Homo sapiens: one gene and its partners. The protein of the gene in region 2 purifies or fractionates together with the protein of the main gene of each other region. This does not show direct contact. Each region holds a gene or a part of one and is shown on either strand. Other genes may lie near its edges.

Region 1 (3,500 bases), on a different chromosome or scaffold from region 2:
GCAGCACACGCTCACCCCTGACCACAGCTCTGTGGAGTCACCACCATCAGCACCCTCAGGTGTGGCCTGTGCTGTCCAAGGGCTTCTGGGCTATCTCCGTGAGGACAGGGTCCGCTGAGACAGGGGAAACATGCCAGGACCTAGCCTTACACACACACACGCGCGCACATGCACACGCACTACACATTTACACCACAAAGCCAGGACACACATGTACATGTTTATATCTAGAAAACGCCAAGTCAAGTAATCAGTACGTGAAGCGGGCCGAGTACCCGATGGCCTGGCCCGGGGTGAAGGCTGTTTAGTGACCATGGAAGTGTGTGAGATTTCACGCACACGCATTCATGTCAACAAGGACATCAGGAGAAGTTAACATTATACTGAAGTCTTAAGTTAAAACATTTCTGAAGTGTATGGAAAGGTTTCACTAGCTGTTACTTTTCTAAAGTCCCTTGCCCTGTGTTACTTTACCCAGACGCCTCTGCTCTTTATCGTGGATCAAAGTCCCTGGGGCTTTTGTGTGTCCCCGTCAGGCGGCGTCGTGGCCTCAGCAAGTGCCTTGGTGGGCGAGTGTGACGTTCCCCCAGCTGGTCGCGGAGCTGACAGTGTGGGTGGTTGGTGCCATCGCACTCAGCAGACAAGGTGAGTGACCCCAGCCCAGCCCTCCTTGTCCCGGTGCCATCCGGGAGGTGCTGGGAGACCTGTCCTTTCCCTCTGCCCCGGGGCTGCACCTGCACAGCCAGCCCTTGCTGTGGGGAGAATGGAGGCGCCGCTCCTCTGGTGGCCTCCCTGGGCCCCGTCACTGCCCAGTGTGGGGAACCCGGTGCCCGGCATGCGCCGGGGCTCGCTCAACACCCTACAACCGTGCTCACCTGACAGCTCCAAGTTTGGAGATGAGCAGGGAGAGAAGCTCAAGAAAGGATGAAATATCGCCTCAATTGTTTTAAAAAGGGGAGGCTCGCTATCTAAGAATCATGTTTCTGTAAAGAAAAAGTGCTCTTTCCACCCCGGTAGGGAGGTGCTGAGGTGCTGCAGTGTCTGCACTGAGTGCACACACTGTCGCACTTGCAACTGACCAGTGGGTCTTCACAGGTGCGGAGAGGCCAGCTTCTCGGTCTTCACCTCCAGGAGGGCCGGGCTTTTCCTCTCCCTGGTCACGTGGAGCTGGCCAGAGCTCTTCACAAGCAACACCAAGAACCTCTACCAGGGTCCTTTCTGCCACCCATTAGGTGGCATCTCTTTATCCCAAGTAGGATTTGAGGGGACACACTAAAGCACTTTGCTTTTAAAAATTTATCTGGCACTAAAATAATTTAATGCACCACGCCAGCAAATATTTAACCCTGAAATTACTGATACCAACCAATCCCTTTATGGACATATAATTCCACAACACAGGCATAGGCTGAGCCCACTCCAGCTGTGAAGAATGGGCTCCAGTAGGAACGTGGGCTGTGCCTGGGGCGACAGAAGTCCCGCCCAAGATGTGGAGTGGCCCCTACAGGACCCCAGCTAGCTAGGGTGCGGCATGAGGGGTGTGGGTGGGAACACCCTGCACAGCTATGGCAGGAACACCCGCCGAGGCCTGGTGACAGGGACAGAGGGCACTGAGGCACAGGGTCCAGACAGCACCTGCCTTTATGACGAAGCACTTCAGAGGACACTGTGTGATCCACACACCCGCTTTGAGAGAACACCAATCCTCTGGGGACTGCATGGCCACGGAGACACTTCAGTTGGGCATCAGATACTAACCCCTAACTGAAGTCACATCAGCTTCTTCTAAGGGGCTATGAAAGAGCTGGTCACTAACAGAGCACGTGGCCCCTGGAATCACCCTCAACCCTTGACAAAGATGTATTTTAGGCTATTTGTAAATAATCGTTTAAATACAGTACTTTCCAAGGAACGTGCAAACACAAAATAGCTTGCCAAAGATGAATGAACCTATTACAATTTGAGCTGCAGATTTTAAAATAATTATTTCTAGAAATAGTTTTCTATGTCATTATTGTTAAGTCTCCTGGAAATCCATCCCTGTTAGAGAAGTGATCCCTGATGGAGCCACTTCCCGGTGTGTGCTGGCTCCCGAGTCTGTCTAGAGGAAAGAGCAGGGCCGCTGGGAGTGTCACCTCCCTTTCTGGCTGAGCCTTGGGCTTCTGGGCACTGAGTCTTCTCTGACCTGAGGCCAAGATGAGCTGGTTGCAGGCTGTGGGTTTTTCCCTCTCTAAAAAACTCTCCTAAGACAATTTATGCTGTGAATCAGGGGTACTTCTCGTGCCACAGTCCTACGCCCTCAAAGATGAATCCTATTGCTAACCGCTGCGTCTGTGCTCCTAACTCCTGCTCCCAGAGAGCCCTGGGCTGGTCAGGACTCAGCAGGGCATGTCAGTGGGAGGAGGGGTGCAGGTGCAGGTGGGCCTCACCTCCACCCAGAAAGCCGGCGCTTACCTGGTCCCTCAAAGGGCAAGAGTTTGGATGGAACAGGGTCCTGGGCGCTCAGCGGGATCAGGTAGAGGTCCTTGACGTGCCTGTTGTTATTAGCTACAACACCAAAGCGGCCACGGCTGCTGAAATAGGAGTAGAGAGAGATATAGGCGACCTCCTCTTCCTCTGTGGCGGGGTGGAAGCGGATCAGACAGAGCTCCTGCAATGGAAGAGTGGGAAGCACTCATAAAGAAAATGTGGCTCAAGCATCACACGCCCAATTCACATCCTGCTTTCAACAGGAAACCTTGTCAGATCTCTCCGACTCACAGCCACGATCTCACAGAGCTGCTGTCTCAGTGAGGCAATTCACGTGACATGTGAGCCCAGCAGTGTCTGGAGCCGAGCCGGCTCTTCCTACATGCACGACGGCCCCGGTCACGAGGAACCAGCTGCATGATCTGCAATGGCTGTCTGTGCCCCTCCCTAGAGGGGGTTAAACTAGACGACAGGGTCTAGCCCTTTCGTGAACCTGACGAAGACTACAGAGATTCCCCAGAGAAAACCACAGACAGACACGCACAGCTGTAGCTAAATCTCAGGGGGTCCCAGAAAACCAGAACCGTTCAAGAGCCCAGGTTGAGTGCCCTGAGCCTGATCACCCCTGCAAAAGACACCTTCTGCTCCTTCAATCATAAAAAAACAAGAAAATAAAACGTATCTATTTCTTCCTAAAATTTAACCGCACATACATTATAATAAATCAGAAACAAACTTCTACCGCGGCACACTCAGACACCTTCACACAGTCATACAACTATGTAAACTTTTTTTTTTTTTGAGACAGTCTTGCTATGTCTCCCAGGCTGGAGTGCAGTGGTGCGATCTCGGCTCACTGCAAAACTTAATTTTTAACATTCACCTGGAAATATCTAGTAAGCTACAGGCTAACATTTTAAGTGTTAACCCATCCAAACGAGAGGTTAAAAAAAGATGTGTTTAAATCAACACAATTTTCCATGGTTGCAGAATTTATACTATAAGCAGGTACCTTAGACACAGAAGACTTG
Region 2 (3,500 bases):
CATGAAAAAGCCAGGCTGTGTCCTAGTCCCAAAAGGCACACTGATCCCTTTGCAGATAAACCTAACCAGGTATGAATCAGAAAGAATAGAATTTTATCAAATAGTAAAATAACTTCATTCATGAAAATTTCAACTGCCTTAAATTTTTTACCAGACATTTTAATGCCACCCATATAAATCTTTGCCTAAAGAAATAAGACATGTATATAGAAAAACCAGCAAACTAAAATAACAGAAAAATGGGGCCGGGCGCAGTGGCTCACACTTGTAATCCCAGCACTTTGGGAGGCCGAGGCGGGCAAACCATGAGGTTAGGAGTTCGAGACCAGCCTGGCAAACATGGTGAAACCCCATCTCTACTAAAAATACAAAAAAATTAGCCAGGTGTGGTAGCACATGCCTGTAATCCCCGTTACTCAGGAGGCTGAGGCCAGAGAATTGCTTGAACCCAGGAGGTAGAGGTTGCAATGAGCTGAGATCGCGCCACTGCACTCCAGCCTGGGCGACAGAGCAAGACTCAGTTTCAAAAAAAAAAAGGAAAATGGAAGCCCCCTACATTGGACCAAAGGAAGTCTGCAGCTTTTACATTAAGCAGACTTTACACTCAATTAGGTTCACCTAGTCTGTTTTTCTTCTCATCTTGGGAAACTAGCCATTTCCAGACATCTCTTCGTCCATATAATTGAAGAAACTAATGTCTAATAGGTAAAACCCTGTTTCTGTAATCTCAGGTGTAAATTCAAGCCAAGCAGCCTAGGGTATATATAATTTCTCAAAATGTGGTTCTTGACCACCAATCACCTAGATTCCCGGTCCCCACCTTATCCATTTGGGAAATAAAGTCCAGCAGTCAGCATTCTTCCAAGCTTCACTTCTAATCATTCTTTTAAGGCAGTTCTTATGCAAACTGAAATTTGAGAAGAACTAGTACCTCCAGTAAAGCTCTTTTTACTTAATTTGGAAAATATTCCTCTATCAGAAGGATTCAAGGCTGGGTGCACTGGCGCACGACTGTAATCCCGGCACTCTGGGAGGCTGAAGTGGGTGAATCACCTAAAGTCAGGAGTTCGAGACCAGCCTGGCCAACGTGGCAAAACCCTGTCTCTACTAAAAATATAAAAATTAGCCAGGCATGGTGGTGTGCCTGTAACAGCTACTCAGGAGGCTGAGGCATGAGAATCGCTTGAACTTGGGAGGTGGAGGTTGCAGTGAGCCGAGATTGGGCCACTGCACTCCAGGCAACAGGGCAAGACTCTGTCTCAAAAAAAAAAAAAAAGAAAAAAAAAGCATTCAAAGTAAAAAAAATTCTTATAGAAACAAAGAAATAAAAAACCAGGCATGGTGACTCACACCTGTAATCCCAGCACTTTGGGAAGATCATGAGGTGAGCAGTTCGAGACCAGCCTGGCTGGCATGGTGAAGGCCCTGTCTCTACTAAAAATACAAAAATTAGCCAGGCATGATGGCACGCACCTATAGTCCCAGCTACTCGGGAAGCTGAGGCAGGAGAATCACTTGAACCCGGGAGGCGGAGGAGGTTGCAGTGAGCCGAGATTGTGCCACTGCACTCCAGTCTGGGCGACAGAGCAAGACTCTGTCTCAAAAAACAAAACAAACAAACAAAAAAAGAAAACAAAGAAATAGGAATTTGATTTCCTTTTAACATCGTAAAAGCAACTGAGTAAACTTCTAGTTTCAAGTACATAGTCAGGAAAAATGAATAAAAAGTAAGGAGTTACCTGGTCCAATTTACGTTTCAATGTGGATACTTCCTTGGGGTTAGAAAAAGTGATATCCAATCCAGGTGAGATCGCATAGATGAACTCTATCTCATATTCTCGTGCAGCAGAGATGAGAGTCATAAGTTGCTCTAAAGAACAGAGTCTATGTTTTTAGAAAGCAGAACAGAAAACTAAAAGAACCTTCACTGAAGGTTTAACTGAAGAGGTTATTTCTTCTAACTTACAAGAAAGGAAAAGATCCTCACATTTTACAAATTGTCATGTCCAACTTAACAACAGGCCATACAAAATGGTACAAGCCTGAAGTGATTTAATGTCACAGTAAGGGAAAAAGAATAGTTTTCACACCTTTGAAATCTGAACCAACAGAAAATAAGAGGCCCTTCTTTTTCACTTCCAAATAGTTTCTTATCCTTTTGGGGAAACAGGCTAAAATCAATAAACATTTTCCTCCCTTTCATTGCCACTTCTCAAAAACACTGAATTGTCAATTCTCTTACTGAACTTAAGCCATTTCTATTTCCTGCAGCATTTGAAAGGCATAAAATGCAGCCGCTGCTTTTTTATTTTGAGAGCCTTGCTCTGTTGCCCAAGGCTGGAGTGCAGTGGCACGATCCTGACTCACTGCAACCTCCACCTCCTGAGTAGGTGGGATTACAGGCATACCCGGCTAATTTTTGTTTAGTAGAGATGAGGGTTTTGCCATATTGCCCAGGCTGGTCTCGAACTCCTGGCCTCAAGTGATCCGCCTGCCTTAGCCTCTTACAGTGTTGGGATTGCAGGCATGAGCCATGGTACTGGATCTTGCTTTTTTTTTTTGTTTTGCCATCTCTGAACAGCTGGAATTCCTAACTAAATAAACCTACACATAACTACTTTATAATATGAAAGAAAGAAAATGCTTTCTTAAGAATCAGGGTAGGCCAGGCCCAATGGCTCATGCCTGTAACCCCAGGACTTTGGGAGGCCAGGCAGGAGGACTGCCTGAGGTCAGGAGTTTGAGACCAGCCTGGTCAACATTGTGAAACCCCATCTCTACTAAAAATACAAAAATTAGCCAGGCGTGGTGGCGCATACTTGTAATCCCAACTACTAGGGAGGCTGAGGCAGGAGAATTGCTTGAACCCTGGAGGCAGAGGTTGCAGTGAGCCAAGATCGCACCACTGCACCCCAGTCTGGACGACACAGCAAGACTCCATCTCAAAAAATGAAAAAAAATGAAAAAAAAAAAAAAAAAAAAAAAAAATGAATCACACCTGTAATCCCAGCACTTTGAGAGGCCACGGCAAGTTGACTGCTTGAGTTCAGGAGTTTGAGACCAGCACAGGCAACATGGCAAACCCCTCTCTCTACAAAATATACAAAAATTAGCTGGGTGTGGTGACCCGCGCTTGTAGTCCCAGCTACTTGGGGGACTGAGGCGGGAGGATTGCTTGAGCCGGGGAGATCAAAATTGCAGTGAGTCACTGCACTCCAGCCTGGGTAACAAAGTGACAAACGCTGTCTCCAAAAAAAGAAAAAGAAAAAGAACCAGAGTTAAGTCATGGCCTTAACAATCTTGACCTGTTTCTATCTATGGGAAAAACATTAATTATAGATTTTAACCTTTTAAAATTATCAATTGACAATTTTCCTAAATCAACTTAACTACTACTAGTATATACTATAAGACATATTTTTGAATAATTTTCAGTAGTATCTCAAGATAGTCATTTTTACTCTATTTTGATTATTGATCACATTAAGTTTCATTACCAG
Region 3 (3,500 bases), on a different chromosome or scaffold from region 2:
GGGAGCCTGGTCACCTCCAAGGGCATGACAACTAGTCTGACCCGAGGGGGTTGGGACAATGGGAGAGGCCCATTGATTCAGATGAAACTCACACCCTAATTGACACCAGACGTAAGTGGGGCTCATGAGTCGGTCAGAAAGGAAAACCATTTTGGGGATGGGGGAGGTGTGTGAAAGTGTGTAAAAGAGATGGTCTCGGGAGAGACCAAGGCGGGGTTGATGTGGGGAGGCACAGATCTCTTAGCGTGGACTGTGTGCTCCCAGGCGAGTGTGGGAAAAACCAGACCTAGGACACTGCATACGGCCCAGAGGACCAGCTCCACAGCTGCAGCTAGCTGTGACAGGAATTAAGGCATGCTCCTGGCTAAGCAGTGTCCGAACCTCCTGTAATAGGACCCAGTCTGGTGGATCCAAGAGTGAAAGTGAGAGTGAAAGTGCATCACAAGGGAGGAAACAGGAGGAAAAGCGTCAAAGCCTATTCCACTGGAGTGCGTGCTGAAAAACTTTAAAAAAAGTTTTAATGGTGACTATGGGGTTAAGCTAACTTCACAGAAACTGAGAACTTTTTTGAGATAAAATAGCCATCTTTTAATGTAGGGTGGCCAGCCAAGGGGACAATAGACAGGGAGATAATTGGCCGAGTGTTTCGGGTGGTCACCAGGCTTGGAGAACAGCCCGGGCACCTGGATCAGTTTCCGTATATTGACTCCTGGCTAAGTATAATTCAGACCCTCCCTAAGTGGCTGCAGGCCTACTTTGAGATCTACTGTAAGACTCTAACGGCCAAGACAAAACCAGGAACAATAGAAAGAAACTGCAAGGCATCAGAAAAAGAAAAGTCACAGGAAAAGCAGTAAAAACCTGTCCTACAGGCCCCGCCTGAAGAGTTAGAAATTCCACCCCACTATGCACCAATTTATCCACCTCTGGCAAAGCTTAGACAGAAGGCTGCCCCGGCTGCCTCCGGAGACTCAGACTCAGAAGGAAGCACCCCTCAGGCAACACCACGCAGAGAGGAGCCAGAGCCCTTGACTGAAAAGCCAAGGGAGGAACTCCAGGGTGATGAGGTCGGCCGCCTTAGGTCGGTCCGTGCCCAAGCAATGCAGATGCCACTCTGAGAAACATGGGGACAAATTTATTTGAATGCACAGAATGAAGTCCAAGGGGGAGAACAGCTCTTCTTTTATCAGCCCTTCTCTACTACTGATCTCTTAAATTGGAGACAACATACTCCCTCCTATAGAGAGAAGCCTCAGGCTCTTATAGATCTAATGCAGTCCATTTTCCTAACTCACAATCCTACCTGGGTTGATTGTAAACATTTTTTTCTGTCATTATTTAATATGGAAGAGCACCGTAGAGTTATACAAGCTGCTCTCCAGTGGCTGGAGAAAAATGCATCTTCAAGCACAGGAGATATCAGGCAGTATACACAACAAGCACTCCTGATAGAGGCTGACCCAGGCTGGGACCCTAACCAGGCTCAAGGGCTACAAGTTTGCAGCAGTATTGAGAGGCACTCCTAAATGGAATAAACGCTGGAGAGAAAAAGGCCACCAATATCGGAAAGGTCTCAGAGGTTCGCCAGAAGCCAGATAAAAGTCCCGGTGAATTTTATGAGAGGCTGTGCGAGGCTTACCAGCTTTACATGCCACTTGACCCAGAGGCTGCGGGTAATCAGTGTATGGTTAATGTGGCATTTGTAAGCCAGGTGCAAGAAGACATCGGAAGTTAGAAGGGTTTGAAGGTGTGAATATTACCCAGCTTATCCAGGTGGCTACTAAGGTGTTTGTAAATCAGAAGGAGGAGGCCAAGAGAAAAGCTAGATGCAGAGCTAAGGAAAAGGCAGACTTGCTGGCGGTGGCCTTAGTTGGAAGAGAAACTGGTTTTGTGAGAGGATGTGGTCGTGGTTGCGGTCATGATAGAGGACAAACTAGGTAAAACCAGGAAGCTAAGCCAGGACAAGAGGGCCAACTTAGGCTTAAGGGAGATCAATGTGTGAGATGCAAGCAGATGGGACACTAGAAGAATGAATGCCAAATTTTCCGGTGCCCTTGTTAGGAAGAGATTTCCTCCAGAAATTGCAAGCACAAATCTCCTTTATACCAGAAGGGCACATGACTCTAAATCTAGGTCAAAGAAAAGCCATGATAAAGACCCTTACTGTCCCAACAACAGAGGAATGGTAATAATTTGGGTGCCCCACACGGTTGTCACTCTGATGGAGCAGAGGGGACATTGCTGGCTTTCTAACCCTAGAATGTTAAGATATCAAGGGCTTTTGTGTGAAATCCCCTACCTAACCTTGGAGACTATGAATACTCTAAATCCGGCCACACTGCTGCTGATAGAATGGGCGGAGCATGGAAAGCCCCCATTGTGTGGCCCAGGGTATCACTGTTGTGTGGAAACTGTGGATGAAGTTTTCTCAAGCTGAAAAGACTTAAAGGACTAGCCCTTAAAAGACCCACATGTTAAATACTTTGCTGATGGAAGCAGCTTCATATCTAAAGGTTTATCAGTTGGGCTGGATATGCAGTGGTAACACTGAATTCAGCAGCTGAAACCTGCCCTCTGCCGGCCGGAACTTTAGCCCAAAGAGCTGAGATAATAGCTGTCACTAGGGTGTTGCTTTTGGCCAAAGAAAGTCGGTAAACATCTATACTGACTCAAGGTATGCCTTTGCCACTTTGCATGCCCATGGAGCCATATATAAGGAAAGAGGATTGTTAACTACTGAAGGAAAGGAAATCAAAAATAAAAAGGAAATAGAGCAGCTCTTAGAAGCTGTATGGGCTCCAAAAGAAGTAGCAGTCATCCATTGCAAAGGGCATCAAACAGGAGGACATGACAAGGCCAGAGAAAACAGAAAGGCAGAAAGAGAAGCCAAAAGAGCTGCAATGACAGCGATAACTAAGAAGGAAGAGGAAACCCTTACCATGCCCTTATTGGAGCTTCCTCTTACAGAACCCCCTAACTACTCCTCTAATGAAAAGGCTTGGTTTGAGCAGGAAAGTGGAAGTTACCAGAAAGGAAGTTGGTGGAAGTTCTCAAATGGGAGGCTCGCCAGCTATCCCAGAAGCAATAGCCCCTGGTTCATAAAACAGTTTCATCAAGGAACACATATGGGAAAAACTGCATTAGAGACTCTTGTAGGATGGCATTTCTATTGCTGAGCCTAACTGCCATCACTCGAGCCATTTATGAGTAATGTTTAACTTGTGCCCCAAACAATCCACAGCAGGGGCCAACATGGCCCCCAGGGATTCAAGAAACTGGAGCTACACCCTGTGAAAACCTGCATGTGGGCTTTACTGAGCTGCCTCGAACCGGAGGCTACCGGTGCATGCTAGTGTTTGTCTGCACTTTCTCAGGGTGGGTTGAGGCATTTCCCACCAGGACAAAGAAAGCTCGGGAAGTAACCAGAATCTTACTAAAGGACATTATTCCTAGATTTCGACTGCCTCTAACTTTAGGATCAGACAATGGCCCAGCATTTG
Region 4 (3,500 bases), on a different chromosome or scaffold from region 2:
AGGTCAGGAGTTTAAGACCAGCCTGGCCAACATGGTGAAACCCCGTCCCTACCAAAAATACAAAAATTAGCCAGGTGTGGTGGTGCACACCTGTAATTCCAGCTACTCATGAGGCTGAGGAAGGAGAATCGCTTGAACCGGGAAGTGGAGGTTGTAGTGAGCCGAGATCACGTCACTGCAGTCCAGCCAGACTCCGTCTCAAAACAAACAAAAAGAGCCGCTGTCAGCCGTGCAGTGGCTCACTCCTGTAATCCCAGCACTTTGGGAGGCCAAGATGGACCGATCACCTGAGGTCAGGAGTTTGAGACCCGCCTGGACAACATGGTGAAACCCTGTCTCTACTAAAAATACAAAAAAAACCAAAACCGGGTGTGGTGGCGGGTGCCTCTAATCGCAGCTACTCAGAAGGCTGAGGCTGGAGAATCGCTTGAACTGGGGAGGCAGAGGTTGCAGTGAGCCGAGATCACGCCATTGCACTCCAGCCTGGGCAACAAGAGCAAAACTCTGCCTCAAAAAAAATAAAACCAAAAAACAAAAAAACTCTGTCCTCTAGGAGCTCACAGGCTGGCATGGGCAGGTACCACAGACCAGGTTAAAGGCTGTGGAGTGCACTGAGGAGGCGATTCTTCACAAAAGAAAAGTACCAATCAGCCAGTGTCAGGGGGTCAGGGGTGGGATTGGGATTGGGGTTCCTGCTTGGAGGAAATAAATCCTGAGGTTGTGCTGCTGTAAAGGGGCATGTTGGGAAGGGGACATGGGAGTGAGTGTGGAAAGACGAGGTTAGGAAAGGCCTTGAATGACTTCTTAGAAGTCTGCTTTCATTCTGAGGTTTACAAAGGAGGGTTGGAAGATTTTTTTTTTTTTTGAGATGGAGTCTTGCTCTGTCACCCAGGCTGGAACGCAGTGGCACGACCTCTGCTCACTGCAGCCTCTACCTCCCAGGTTCAAGTGATTCTCCTGCCTCAGCCTCCCGAGTAGCTGGGACTACAGGTGCGTGCCACCACATCCGGCTAATTTTTTGTATTTTTAGTAGAGTCGGGGTTTCACCACGTTAGCCAGGATGGTCTCCATCTCCTGACCTCGTGATCCGCCCGCCTTGGCCTCTCAAAGTGCTGGGATTACAGGCGTGAGCCACCGCGCCTGGCCGGAGGGTTGGAAGATTCTGAGGAGCCAGTTGCCACTTTAGAAAGAGCATAGGCAGTGGTGGGGCAGGTGCTGTGAACTGGGATGAGGTTAATTAGGAAGCCATTAACCCCAACTCGGCAAGCCTCAGGATTAGGGCAGTGACAGAAGGAACAGAGAAGCTAGGTGGGGGCAGGGGCTGGGCTGTAAGGGTTATAGTGGAGCTGATTTGGGGCTGACTGGATTGGGGTAAATGAGGAGCTGCAGGGAGGACTCCCCAGAATGATCCTGTGAAAACCTGAGTCACTCCTCTGTTAAAGCTTTTGTCAGTGTCCTCTGAGCACCCCACCCTGTCTCTTTTCATCTTCCTGCTCTGGCCCTACTCAAGCACTTCCAGGTGCATCTGGAGTTCTGAACCAAACCCATTCTTGTAGTGATTAGCATTTCTTCACTTCCCCACATACTCCTTAGCCTCTGCCCTGATTTTTCTCCTTAGCACACCTCACTATCTTAAATGCTGTATTATTATTATTTTTTTTTTATTATTACTTTTTGAGACGGAGTCTCGCTCTGTCACCCAGGATGGAGTGCAGTGGCATGATCTCAGCTCACTGCATCCTCTGCCTCCCGGGTTCAAGCCATTCTCCTGCCTCAGCCTCCCAAGTAGTTGGGACTACAGGCATGTGCCACCACACCTAGCTAATTTTTGTATTTTTAGTAGAGACAGGATTTCACCATGTTGGCCAGGCTGGTCTCGAACTCTTGACCTTAAGTGATCCACCTGCCTCAGCCTCCCAAAGTGCTGGGATTACAGGCCTGAGCCACCGTGCCTGGCCAATACTGTATTATTTTAATCATTTTAAAATTTTTATTGTTTGTCTCCACTTAACATTCATAACCTCCACAAGGATGGGGAGTTTTGTCTCTTGTATTCAGTGTCGGTGCTTGGCGTGTAATAGGAACTTAGTAAATGTTTGTTGAAGGAATGCATCTAGAATGATCCTCATCTCTAATTTGGGTGATTCACTGGCTGGTGACACTCATCCAAGGAGGGAAAATGGGAGAAGGATGAGATTATGAGTTTGTTTTTGGACATGTTAAATCTGAAGTGCTTGTGGGGCAGCCAAGTGGACTAGTGGGCAGTTAGAGATACATCTTTGGAGCTCAAGACAGAGGCTGAGGCTGGAGGTAAAGATTCCAGAGACTGCATCATATCGTTGAGCCAGTCGGGTGTGATGTCCATCTGGTAGAGATGGGGAGTGGGTCTAAGAGGAGAGGGTCCTGGGAAACCAAGAGAAGAGGAGGGAGGAGATCAGTAGCAAATTGGCTAAGAAGTCAGTGATGGGTTGGACTGAGAAGTCTCTATGGATTTTGCTTCTAGGAGGTTACTAATGACCTTTAACTTTTTTTTTTTTAAATATAGTTTATGTAGAGACGGGGGTCTCACTGTGTTTCCCAGGCTGGTCTCGAATTCCTGGGCTCAAGCCATCTGCCTGCCGTGGCCTCCCAAAGTGTCGGGATTACAGGTTTGAGCCACTGCACCCGGCCTGTTGCCTGTTTCCTGAGAATATTACCTCTTAAGGATGGAGGCTATTTCGAGATGATCTTCATTCGTTCTCCCAAGGCATCCTTTGTGGCGTTGTACTCTGTAGCCTCCTAGTTAGTATACTCATGGATCAGAAATGAATTATGATTTTTTTTTAGTTTTAACTAATTTTTGGAGGCAGATGAAAGCAGTTTGCATATATGCTTTTTGAATTTGAAAAGTGCTATCTGAACTTAAAGCAACGGATATGGAGCAAACATGTTAAGCTGAGTTACGTGCATACGTGAACTGAGTTACTTCCTTGGTTCTAAAATATCTGTTACCTTCATTTAAACCATAGATTGTTCCCTGACTTCAGTTGCATAACATAAATTTATGTTCAGGCTTCTCTGAAGTTCACTATGCTGCTACTAAAACTGATCAGAGTGATGTTTGCACTGTTCCAGAGAAAATAGGTACTGTAAACCCTGCGGATGTCATATGTGTCTGTAGTTTCAGTTACTCCGAAGGCTGAGGTGGGAGAATCAGTTGAGCCCAGGAGTTCAAACTAGCTTGGGCAATATAGTGAGACCTTGTTTCTTAAAAAAATAAAAGGCTGTGCTTGGTGGCTAATGTCTGTAATCCCAGCACTTTGGGAGGCTGAGGAGGGCGGATCACCTGAGGTCAGGAGTTTGAGACCAGCCTGGCCAACATGGGTGAAACCTTGTCTCTACTAAAAATATAAAATTAGCCGCGTGTGGTAGTATGCTTCTGTAGTCCCGGGTATTTGGGAAGCTGAGGTAGGAGAATCACTTGAACCCGGGAGGCGGAGGTTGCAGTGAGCCAGATCGAG
Region 5 (3,500 bases), on a different chromosome or scaffold from region 2:
AACTCCTGCTTTAGAAGTTCCTAGGATTATTAGCGTTTATTTTTGACTAGTGTCTATTTGGGGAAATTAGGTACCTACTATGTTTCAGGCACTGGTCTAAAAAGATTGTAAAATTTCCTGTTTCTTTCTGGTCTGGTCATATCTAAGGACTTGTAATTGTCCCTACTTGTTTTGCTTTTCAGTACGGAGCCCCAGATGCAGGTGGACTAGAACACGTTCCTCTGGGTTGGAGTTACTGGTATGCCTTGGTGAGTGATTATTGAAGTCTGTGACAATTTTATGCAGCCCTACAGATGCAGAATATGTTTAATTTAGCTCTGATATTGACATAACTTTATTTGCTTTTACAATTAGTCATTTTAAAAACCTTAAAATTTATTGACTTGTGGCCAGGTGTAGTGGCTCACGCCTAGAATCCCAACACTTTGGGAGGCAGAGACAGGAGGATCTCTTGAGTTCAGGAGTTCGAGACCAGCCTGGGCAAAATGGCGAGACCCCATTTCAACAAAAAATTTTAAAATTAGCTGGGTGTGGTGGCGTGTGCCTGTAGTCCCAGCTACTCGGGAGGCTGAGGTAAGAAGATCACTTGAGCCCAGGAATTTGAGGCTGCAGTGAGCTGTGATTGTGCCACTGCATTCCAGTCTGGGCAACAAAGAGAGACTCTGTCTCTTTAAAAAAAAAAAAAAAAAAAAAAAAAAAAAAGTCTATTGACTTGTGAGTCACTCCTTTCTGGGATGTTTTTCCTGCATTGTACAAGGTTTAGCAAAGTAGTTTGCTTTTCTACCTGATCTACTTCTGGCTTTTAAACTAGAATGCATAATTGAAACTATGCTTGTCTTTAATAAAACCCTAGTCAAAAAATCCAATTCAGTATTGACTTGAGTAATTATCTTTTTAATGTCTTATCACTGCTCAGAGTAGAGTTTAGCCCAGCACGGATTCAGACTTCCACTTTGTGCACTGACCTCATAACAAATTTGACTTTCCTCTTTTTAATAGGAAAAGAATTCTAAGTATTATAATTACACCCTGTCTATCAATGGGAAGGCACGGAAGCATGGTGAAAACTATAGTGTGGACTACCTGACAGATGTTTTGGTGAGTTGCAGAAGCTTTGTAGCTCTGTCCTTACAGGGTTGGCTCACATTTGATTGAAGACTCTGCCTAGAAAACCTATAATCTTATTCGTTTGTGTTGGGTAATATAAATGCACAGTAACTTGGTCTAACTGCCCAAGAGTATTTCCAGCTGATTACAAACTCCTCAGGGTGTTTTCTTTGTGTATAAGCCAGGCTCAGATCTAATGCTCTTGAAATTCCAGCAACAAATCCCTTTTCCAAAGGTTAATCTCTTCGACTACAGAGATTACTTTGTAGAGGTTTTACTTTGTAAGTGTACCTACTCTTGACCCCGGTTTTACTCACAAGCTACAAGATGTCAGCTTCACAGGCCCCATTATGAGGATGGAGAGATAGGGATACTGGATTTATTTGGGCATTGGGTATTTACATATAAAAATTACTGAAAGCAGGTGAAATTGGGACTTTCCTATTCTGAGGCGTTTCTAATGACAGTCTTCAATAGTATTATATATTCACTCAATAGTTGAGCACCTAGTGTAGCCAGTGTTCAACAGTAAATGAAGCAAAGTCCCTGATTCTGTGGAAGTTAATTTTATTTACACACACAAACACACACAGTCTTACGTGTTGCATCATTAGCTGGTGATCAGTTCGAGAAATAAGTTAGGGTATGAGGTTACTTAGATAACATTTAAGCAGAAACCTGAAGTAGGTGAGAATGAGCTGTGCAGATCAGGGGGAAGAGTGCTACAGAGTCAGGGAATAGTAAGTAGGAGGGCCCTGAGGCAGGAGTATACCTGGCATATTTGAGAAACCACAAGGAAGCTGACAGGACTGGAGTGAAAGGTGGATGGAGGGATTATAGGAGATAGATACAGTCAGTATCTGTTGAGTTAGTGTTGGGAATACATGAAACTACTTCAGAACAATGAAAAACAACATGTATGTAGCATGCTTTCATTTTCATAAAGTATCTCCTGATAAGCAAAGGCAAAACTTAAGTCCATGTATTAAAACCCTAGTGGAATGTATTTGAATCTAATATTATTCACTTAGCTACTTCAGTGCATAATTTATGACATCTACTTTCTACATATTTTCATAAGGTTAAGGTAACTTAATCTACCTTTCCCACTGTTTTAAGTTGACTGTCTTTTTACATTCTTTAAGGCATCACATGTAGATACCATAATCTCCATTAGTGTAAGTTAATAGTAAAATATCCAAGTTACTGTTTCCTTCTTTGTGGGAGACATGATTTCTAGGTCATAAAAAGTCATCAAGATCTTAATTGCCTTCTTATGTTGGTATGCTTCTCAGTTTTTAAAGTATTGCCTAAAAAACAAATATATTTGTTCCAACAATATGCTTGCAAATGGCTATGACATAAGATCATGTGCTAAGATTGCTTAAAAGCTAGTAAGACCCTGTACTGTCTGCTCACCAGAAGACATTTATCTATTAAATACTCATCTGTTGGGTAAGGTAGGAGATGACAAATCTTTTTATGTGTCAGGCTAATGTCTCCTTGGACTTTCTGGACTACAAGTCCAACTTTGAGCCCTTCTTCATGATGATCGCCACTCCAGCGCCTCATTCGCCTTGGACAGCTGCACCTCAGTACCAGAAGGCTTTCCAGAATGTCTTTGCACCAAGAAACAAGAACTTCAACATCCATGGAACGGTAGCTTCCCCCACCACTTGTATTCAGCCATACTAAGTATCATTAACTATATGGTATACTTGTCAGGAAGCCTTTGAGCCATGTAGTGGGTTTTTCTTCACAATATTTTAAAGGTAATTGCATCTGTCCCTAGTACAACCAATAGTATAAACTTGCATTGCAAGTACAGATAAAGTTCCTGCTACACATCCAGTGAGCAGCTGGAGAGTTGACAGGGAATGGTAAAGAATGCCATCTTTCCCAATTTACAGGAATATCACTCAGGCTCTCCTGGTAACCTCTGTGCTGACTCTCCTCCCTCCTGGCATAGCCGGGACTGCACCAGCCTCCTGGTGGCCCTCACTAGCCTTTGAGGCATGGGAAGAAGGGGTGGCACAGAGCAATATGGTTGGAAAGGGAAGTTGAATGGAAAAATGAACGAGGTGACATGATTAAGAACCACAACAACCCATGTATTTGCCTCACGTGCCAATTACTTATACTTCCCTTGGCTTGGTGTATAGACAGTTCCCTGGTTCAAAGACAGAAGGCCTGCATTGCCTCAGGTTTGTTATCCAGAAATTGTAATTGCTTGTAAGGTTATAGAAAGAATGAGTCATAAAGTCAAACTCAGTACTACCACTTTCTAGCTCAGTACAGACTATGAGCACGATGCTTAACTTCATTTTTTCATGTGAAGTGGGAGTTCTTGATCCCTCATGGAACTACTGTATGAATTCAAGTACATAGAAACA
Region 6 (3,500 bases), on a different chromosome or scaffold from region 2:
TTCAATTTAGCACTCAAACAACTGCCAGTAGAATGTAAGACCTCTAATGATATCAAAGATAATTTGATTCAGGCCAGGCGTGGTGGCTCACACCTGTAATCCCAGAACTCTGGGAGGCCAAGACGGGCAGATCACCCGAGGTCAGGAGTTTGAGACCAGCCTGGCCAACATGGTGAAACTCTGTCTCTCCTGAAAATACAAAAAAATTAGCCAGGCATGGTGGCATACGCCTGTAGTCCCAGCTACTCAGGAGGCTGAGGCAGGAGACTCGCTTGAACCCAGGAGGGAGAGGTTGCAGTGAGCCGAAACTGTGCCACCACACTCCAGCCTGGGTGGCAGAGCGAAACTCAAGTCTTCCAAAAAAACCCCAAAAAAACAACAAAAAAAAACTGATTCAAAATTTAAAACATTTCAAGTACTTTTCTTCAGGTTCTGTGATATAAGAGACTTCCAAATTCATGAAGAAATTTAGTCAATTTGTGGCCAAAAAACCAACCAAACTCATAGCACAGATAACTACTCTTCTAAATATGAACCAGTTTTATCAACATGGTTGTAAGAACTAAACAAATACTATTTTTTGGCACTCAATTCAGTTATGGGAAAACTTTTGGCTGGGCATGGTGGCTCACATCTGTAATCCCAAACACTTTGGAGGCCAAGGCAGGTGGATCACCTGAGATCAGGAGTTCAAGACCAGCCTGACCAACATGGCAACATGGCAAAACCCTGTCTCTACAAAAAAAAAAAAATACAAAAATTAGCCGTGCCTGGTGGCACACGCCTGTAGTCCCAGCTACTAGGGAGGCTGAGGCATGAGAATTGATTGAACCTGGGAGGTGGAGGCTGCAGTGAGCTGAGATCACACTGCTGCACTCCAGCCTGGGCGACACAGTGAGACTCCGTCTCAAAAAAAGAAAAAAAAAAAAAAAAAGAAAACTTTTTAAGTATGCTTAGAACAACTTTAATATGTAACCCAACTTTTTCTAATACAAACATTATGAAGTCTGATTTATTATCAATGAAAATGTAAAACCTGAATTGAGGGGTGCCACATGTGTAAAATACCCTTTGGAGTTTGAATGCTATTAAAAAAAGAAGCAAAATAAATTATTAACAAATATTGAGGCCAGGTGCAGTGGCTCACGCCTGTAATCTCAGCACTTTGGGAGGCCAAGGTGGGTGGATCACGAGGTCAGGAGTTCGAGGCCAGCCTTGCCAACATGGTGAAAGCCCGTCTTTACTAAAATTATAAAAATTAGCCGAGTGTGGTGGCAGGTTCCTCTAATCCCAGTTACTCGGGAGGCTCAGGCAGGAGAATGGCTTAAACCTGGGAGGTGGAGGTTGCAGTGAGCCGAGATTGTGCCAGTGCACTCCAGTCTGGGTGACAAGAGCACGACTCCATCTCAAAAAGAACAAAAAAACAAAAAAAAATATTGATTACACATGTCAATATTTCAACCAATATGCCATTAATATCTGAATTTATTTCATGTTTCCTTTTACTTTCTAAAATGTGACTACTAGAACATTCTAAGTTTCATATGTGCCATTATATTTCTATTACACAGTGCTGATTTAAGTCACTTTAATAAAAATCAACAAAGTATCACATCATAGGTTTTCAAATACAAACTAACTACCGTCTCCTCACCTAGATCACTTTCCTCACTTGATGGTTCGTCTGCCTTTAAGTCTTCCTCCACCTTCTTACTATCAGGTTTTTCTTCCTAGCAAAGGGAAGACAAACAGTACTATCAGTATTTAATAACATACCGAATATTTATACTAATTTCTACAAATCTATGTATAAACTGTCAAATATGGCCAGGCATGGCGGCTCATGCCTGGAATTCCAGCACTTTGGGAGGCTGGGGTGGGTGGATCATTTGAGGTTAGGAGTTCAAGACTAGCCTGGCCAACACGGTGAAACCATCTCTACTAAAAATACAAATTAGCCGGACGTGGTGGTGCCCGCTTGTAATCCCAGCCACTTGGGAGGCTGAGGCAGGACAATCACTTGAACCTGGGAGGCGGAGGTGGCAGTGAGCTGAGATCATGCCACTGCACTCCAGCCTGGGCGACAGAGCAAGACTGTGTCTCAAAAATAAAAAAACAACTGTTCAAAATAAAGTTTGAACATTGACAATAAACAGTTTAGAGATTATAAATAGCCTCATGTCCACTCACATTATATTTTATTGCCAAATTTAGTAAAAATCTTTACAAGGGTTTTTGAGTTTTGGAACTGCAAATAAGAACCTGTGGAATTACAATAATAAACAATGAAAATTCAAAGAATTTAAAAGTGCACGACATATAGAAAGCAACACTTTCTTCCCATCCTATAAATAACCAGTGTGGTTTCTTGTATATCCCATTGCAGGATAGTCTCTCTATATATGAAACAACTCTATCCTTTGCCTTTTGCATTTAACAACGCTGTGTATCTTGTAAATTATATACCATTATCAGCCTACCTTCATCTATTCACTCAACCATATATTGTTAACCATTTTTAGGTTGCTTCCCTGTTACTTAAAAAATTAGAACCAAGGCAGGGCGCAGTGGCTCATGCCTGTAATTCCAGCACTTTGGGAGTCCGAGGTGGGTGGATCACGAGGTCAGGAGATTGAGACCATCCTGGCTAACATGGTGAAACCCCTTCTCCACTAAAAACACAAAAAAATTAGCCGGACGTGGTGGTGGGCACCTGTAGTCCCAGCTACTCAGGAAGCTGAGGCAGGAGAAGGGCGTGAACCTGGGAGGCAGAGCTTGCAATGAGCCAAGAGATCGCACCACTGCACTCCAGCCTGGGCAACAGAGTGAGACTCTGTCTCAAAAAAAAAAAAAAAAAAAAAAAAATTAGAACCAAAAACCTACCTTGTCACAAAATATTTGTTGAGTCCCTATAAAATGTGCAAAGTCTAGGTATTCTAGAATATATTGAAAAGAAAAGACAAGCCATAATTCTAGTTTAGAATGTTTTTCTTACAAAAAATTTTCAGCTGACACATAGGTTAAATATAATTTTGCCTTCATACACATTTGCCAAATAGCAAAATATCTAGGGCTCAGAAAATACCACTCTGATAAATGGTCCTTTTAAAAAAAAGGTAACTACTTTTTGGGCTTTTGCTTACCTTTTCGCATTCTCCTTCTTAATAGACATAACTTCCACTTTAAGATCCAAATAGATAACAATGTTTAAGTTTCTAAATAATAAAACAGCTATTTTCTTGTCGATTTAAGACAGCTAATCAGAAAATTTGCAAAAAAAAAAAAAGCCTTTTAGATATGAAGGCAGAAGAGAGAAATAAAAAATTATGAAGAAAGCATTCTGGGCCAGGCATGGTGGCTCACGCCTTAGTCCCAGCACCTTGGGAGGCTGAGAGATCAGTTGAGGTCAGGAGTTCGAGACCCACCTGGCCAACATGGCGAAACCCCATTTCTACTAAAAATAGAAAAATTAGCCAGGCATGGTGGGATGCACCTGTAAT
Region 7 (3,500 bases), on a different chromosome or scaffold from region 2:
CGGGAAGCAGGGGTTGCAGCGAGCAGAGATCATGCCACTGCACACCAGACCGGGTGACAGTGCGAGACTCAGTCTCAAAAAAAAAAAAAAGCTGATAAATGAGTGGAGGAACAAACAAGACCTCAAAGTAACAATTTACTTGGGTATTAAAATCAGATGTTACTGATGTCTCATTCTCCTTAATCTGGCATTTTAGGGCAGCAAAACCAGTCTGTGTGGAGTCAGTGGTTTCTAAATAGAATTATTCTATAAACTCAAGAGCTGTGGACCCATCACCCGGAACTCAAATGAGACTTGGACAGACAGGAGGTCACTCTTGGCCAGGAAAAAGCACAAAGTTGGGCGGCAGAAGTAAAATGGGCAGACACAAAGCTGTTTACCTACTCACTTTCAACAACTTTTCCTAATTCAGCTTTATGCTCATGACACAAATTACCACAGTTCACTGGCAAGAGAAACCAATTTTCCCATTTTACAAATGAAGCTGCTTTGTATCAATGTCAAACTTCTTAAATTTGATGACTTTATCAAGGTGACAGAAGAGAACATCTTGAAGGATTCAGAGGTGAAAGGCTGTGGTGCCTGCTATTTACCCTCAAATGGTTCCCCACGCACACGAAACAATGATAGGAATAACAATGTGTGTGTGAGAGGCAGAACACATGTGTCAAAATGCTAACAACTGACACATCTGAGTAAAGGACAGATCAGTGTTTGTTGAACGTTACTGTTACTTTTCTGCAAGTCTGAAATTTAAGTAAAAAAAAGAAAAAATAAAAACTACTTAATAGAAAAGGTTATTCCACCTTTACCACCATTTAAAGGTATCAGATGGGGAGAAATAAAAGCAATACTTTGATGGAGATACCTAATACCTTTGAATAAAGCAATTCAGAACAATTCTAAAATTACCATAAGTATCTTCATTTTAGAATAACTGCAAAGATTCATCCGTATGGTATCTGGGGATAAATCATTCTCCCCAACAAACAGTGAACATCTGTTATATAAAAACCTTGTAAGAGGCTAGATAACAACACAATGGCATAGCAAAGTCTCAAACTGGCAATTTCCAAACTACTCAAGGCAGCAGTTTTCCTAGATGTGGAGCCAAGACACCAAGACAGAAAATATTAAGAGGTAAATGACAGCTGGAAAAACACCAGCTACACGATACACACAACCTGTTCGAATTTCTGGACCTATGCAATTTGACCCAGAAGCAATAATGTAAATGTTAGAACTTGAAAATCCCAATTCTTCTAAATATAATTTTATCACTATTTTTTGCAGTCATTAAAAAAAAAAAAATTATCAGCCACCTGTAATCCCAGCACTTTGGGAGGCTGGAGCAGGCAGATCACCTGAGCCCAGGAGTTCGAGACCAACCTGGGCAACATGGCAAAATCCCATCTCTACAAAAAATACAAAAATTAGATGGGTGTGGCAGAATATGGCTGTAGTCACAGCTACTCAGGAGGCTGCGGTGGGTGGATCACCTGAGCCCGGGGAAGTCGAGGTGGCAGTGAGCTGTGATTGCACCACTGTACTCCAGCCTGTGCAGCAGAGTGAGAGCCTGTCAAAAAATCTCCTAATCTAGCAGCTAGAGCTAAAACATAAATGCAAAAAGCTGGTTAGCAAATGAGGAAGAGAGGGGGCAAAAAAATAACTACTATTTACAGGCCAGGCATTGGAGCACATGCTTTATATACGTTATTTCCAACCATTACAACTTGGTGTGGTAGGTATTACCAATACCACTTCACAGGTAAGGAAATTGAGGTTCAGATAGAAATCAAATACCCCAATCCCTCAGAGATTAAGTAGTAAAGAAGGACCACAATCACTCCTCTAGGTCAAAATGTACCTGCCAAGTTTCAATGTAAGGCTTCTACTCTAGAATTCTACTCAAATCTCACCTTCTTCATAAGACCTGTCCTGACATTTTTTTTTTTTTTTTTTTTAAACAGACAGGGTCTCACTCTGTTGCCCAAGATGTAGTACAATGGCTTGATCACAGCTCATTGCAACCTCAAACTCCTGGGCTCATACAATGCTTCTGCCTCAGGCTCCCAAGCAACTGGGACTACAGGCACACACCACCACACTCAGCTTATATATATATGTGGCACAGACCGGGTCTTGCTATGTTGCCTAGGCTGGTCTTAAACTCCTGGCCTCAAGCAACCCTCCCACCTCAGGCTCCTAAAGCACTAGATTACAGGCATGAGCCACCGTGCCTGGCCCTGATCTTTCTATTTAACACTGCCATCTGCCTCCACCCCAGCCCCTGCCCACAACTCCCAAGTCCCCTTATCATGTGTGAATTTAATTTTTTGTTTTATGATCATTGCAAATTCATATGCAGATGTAAAAAATAGAGCATTTCCATATGAAGTTGACTCAGTTTCTCTCAAAGATAGTATCTTGTGTAACTATAGTACAATATCATCTGTATTACTTTTTTTCTTAGTATCACTTTCTAATACAGGCTGAGTAGCCCTTATCCAAAATGCCAGGGACCAGAAGTGTTTCAGATTTCAGGTTTTGGAATATCTACATTATAACTCACCCAATTCAGCATCCCTAATCCAAAAATCCAGAATCAAAAATGCTCCAATGAGGCTGGGCAGAGTGGCTCATGCCTATAATCCATCCAAGCATTTTGGGAGGCCGAGGTGGGCAGATTACTTGAAGTCAGGAGTTTGACACCAGCCTGGCCAACATGGTGAAACCCCATCTCTACTAAAACTACAAAAAATTAGCCGGGCATGGTGGCGTGTGCCTATCACTCCAGCTACTTGGGAGGCTGAGGCAGAAGAATCACTTGAACCCGGGAGACAGAGGTTGCAGTGAGCCGAGATCATGCCACTGCACTCCAGCCTGGGCAACAGAGCAAAACTCCATCTCAAAAAAGAAAAAAATAATAAAAATAAAAATGTTACAATGAGTATCATGTTAGCACTCAAAAACTTTAGGATTTTGGAGCTTTTCAGATTTCAGACTATAAAAATATATTCATAATACACAGGTTGTATAACCTGTGTATATTTATATATATTTATAATACCTGTGTATTAATTTAGAATACCTGTGTATTATAAATATACTTCTCACAGTTGTTTATTGTCTATTTACCCTCACTAAAATACAAAATCCTCGAGAGCAGGAATCACTATCAGAATTGTGTTGACTGCTATATAGCAAGCACCTAGAACACGGCCTAATCTATAGTAGGAACTCAGTATATATTTGCTGAATGAATCAAAGCATTGTATTGCACCTCCTCTTCTAAGAGAAAACAGACCAGCTCTTCAAGAGACCATCGTGGTAAGTAAGAGTACTCTTAAACATCAGGAAAACGTTACACTCACCCATGGTGACATAAGGCAACTTATCAGTTGATCCATGAGGATAGATGCTGTAGAGGTGAGGTCCAGTAACATCTACTCCCCCTAAAACTAGGGCTGCACCAATGTAACCTTGATACCTGGTGATCA

The links.
Region 1: the proteins of OGA (region 2) and DIDO1 fractionate together in Homo sapiens (co-fractionation; one large-scale study listed by BioGRID). This does not show direct contact.
Region 3: the proteins of OGA (region 2) and IL22RA2 purify together in Homo sapiens (co-immunoprecipitation; one large-scale study listed by IntAct). This does not show direct contact.
Region 4: the proteins of OGA (region 2) and KLC1 fractionate together in Homo sapiens (co-fractionation; one large-scale study listed by BioGRID). This does not show direct contact.
Region 5: the proteins of OGA (region 2) and GNS fractionate together in Homo sapiens (co-fractionation; one large-scale study listed by BioGRID). This does not show direct contact.
Region 6: the proteins of OGA (region 2) and ST13 fractionate together in Homo sapiens (co-fractionation; one large-scale study listed by BioGRID). This does not show direct contact.
Region 7: the proteins of OGA (region 2) and PSMB7 fractionate together in Homo sapiens (co-fractionation; one large-scale study listed by BioGRID). This does not show direct contact.

The regions. Positions count from the first base shown.
Region 1 is NC_000020.11:62,888,506-62,892,005, forward strand, and holds part of DIDO1 (death-inducer obliterator 1), read right to left. Parts: coding exon 3,482-3,500; intron 2,651-3,481; coding exon 2,455-2,650; coding exon of another isoform or gene 2,426-2,454; exon of another isoform or gene 1-2,425. UniProt on the Homo sapiens protein: Putative transcription factor, weakly pro-apoptotic when overexpressed. Tumor suppressor. Required for early embryonic stem cell development.
Region 2 is NC_000010.11:101,808,445-101,811,944, forward strand, and holds part of OGA (protein O-GlcNAcase), read right to left. Parts: intron 1,871-3,500; coding exon 1,740-1,870; intron 1-1,739.
Region 3 is NC_000006.12:137,163,645-137,167,144, forward strand, and holds part of IL22RA2 (interleukin-22 receptor subunit alpha-2 isoform 1 precursor), read right to left. Parts: intron 1-3,500. UniProt on the Homo sapiens protein: Isoform 2 is a receptor for IL22. Binds to IL22, prevents interaction with the functional IL-22R complex and blocks the activity of IL22 (in vitro). May play an important role as an IL22 antagonist in the regulation of inflammatory responses.
Region 4 is NC_000014.9:103,632,211-103,635,710, forward strand, and holds part of KLC1 (kinesin light chain 1), read left to right. Parts: intron 1-3,500. UniProt on the Homo sapiens protein: Kinesin is a microtubule-associated force-producing protein that may play a role in organelle transport. The light chain may function in coupling of cargo to the heavy chain or in the modulation of its ATPase activity.
Region 5 is NC_000012.12:64,742,407-64,745,906, reverse strand, and holds part of GNS (N-acetylglucosamine-6-sulfatase precursor), read left to right. Parts: intron 1-182; coding exon 183-248; intron 249-999; coding exon 1,000-1,098; intron 1,099-2,598; coding exon 2,599-2,766; intron 2,767-3,500. UniProt on the Homo sapiens protein: Hydrolyzes 6-sulfate groups in N-acetyl-d-glucosaminide units of heparin sulfate and keratan sulfate.
Region 6 is NC_000022.11:40,846,640-40,850,139, forward strand, and holds part of ST13 (hsc70-interacting protein), read right to left. Parts: intron 1,731-3,500; coding exon 1,655-1,730; intron 1-1,654. UniProt on the Homo sapiens protein: One HIP oligomer binds the ATPase domains of at least two HSC70 molecules dependent on activation of the HSC70 ATPase by HSP40. Stabilizes the ADP state of HSC70 that has a high affinity for substrate protein.
Region 7 is NC_000009.12:124,401,943-124,405,442, forward strand, and holds part of PSMB7 (proteasome subunit beta type-7 precursor), read right to left. Parts: intron 3,491-3,500; coding exon 3,375-3,490; intron 1-3,374. UniProt on the Homo sapiens protein: Component of the 20S core proteasome complex involved in the proteolytic degradation of most intracellular proteins. This complex plays numerous essential roles within the cell by associating with different regulatory particles.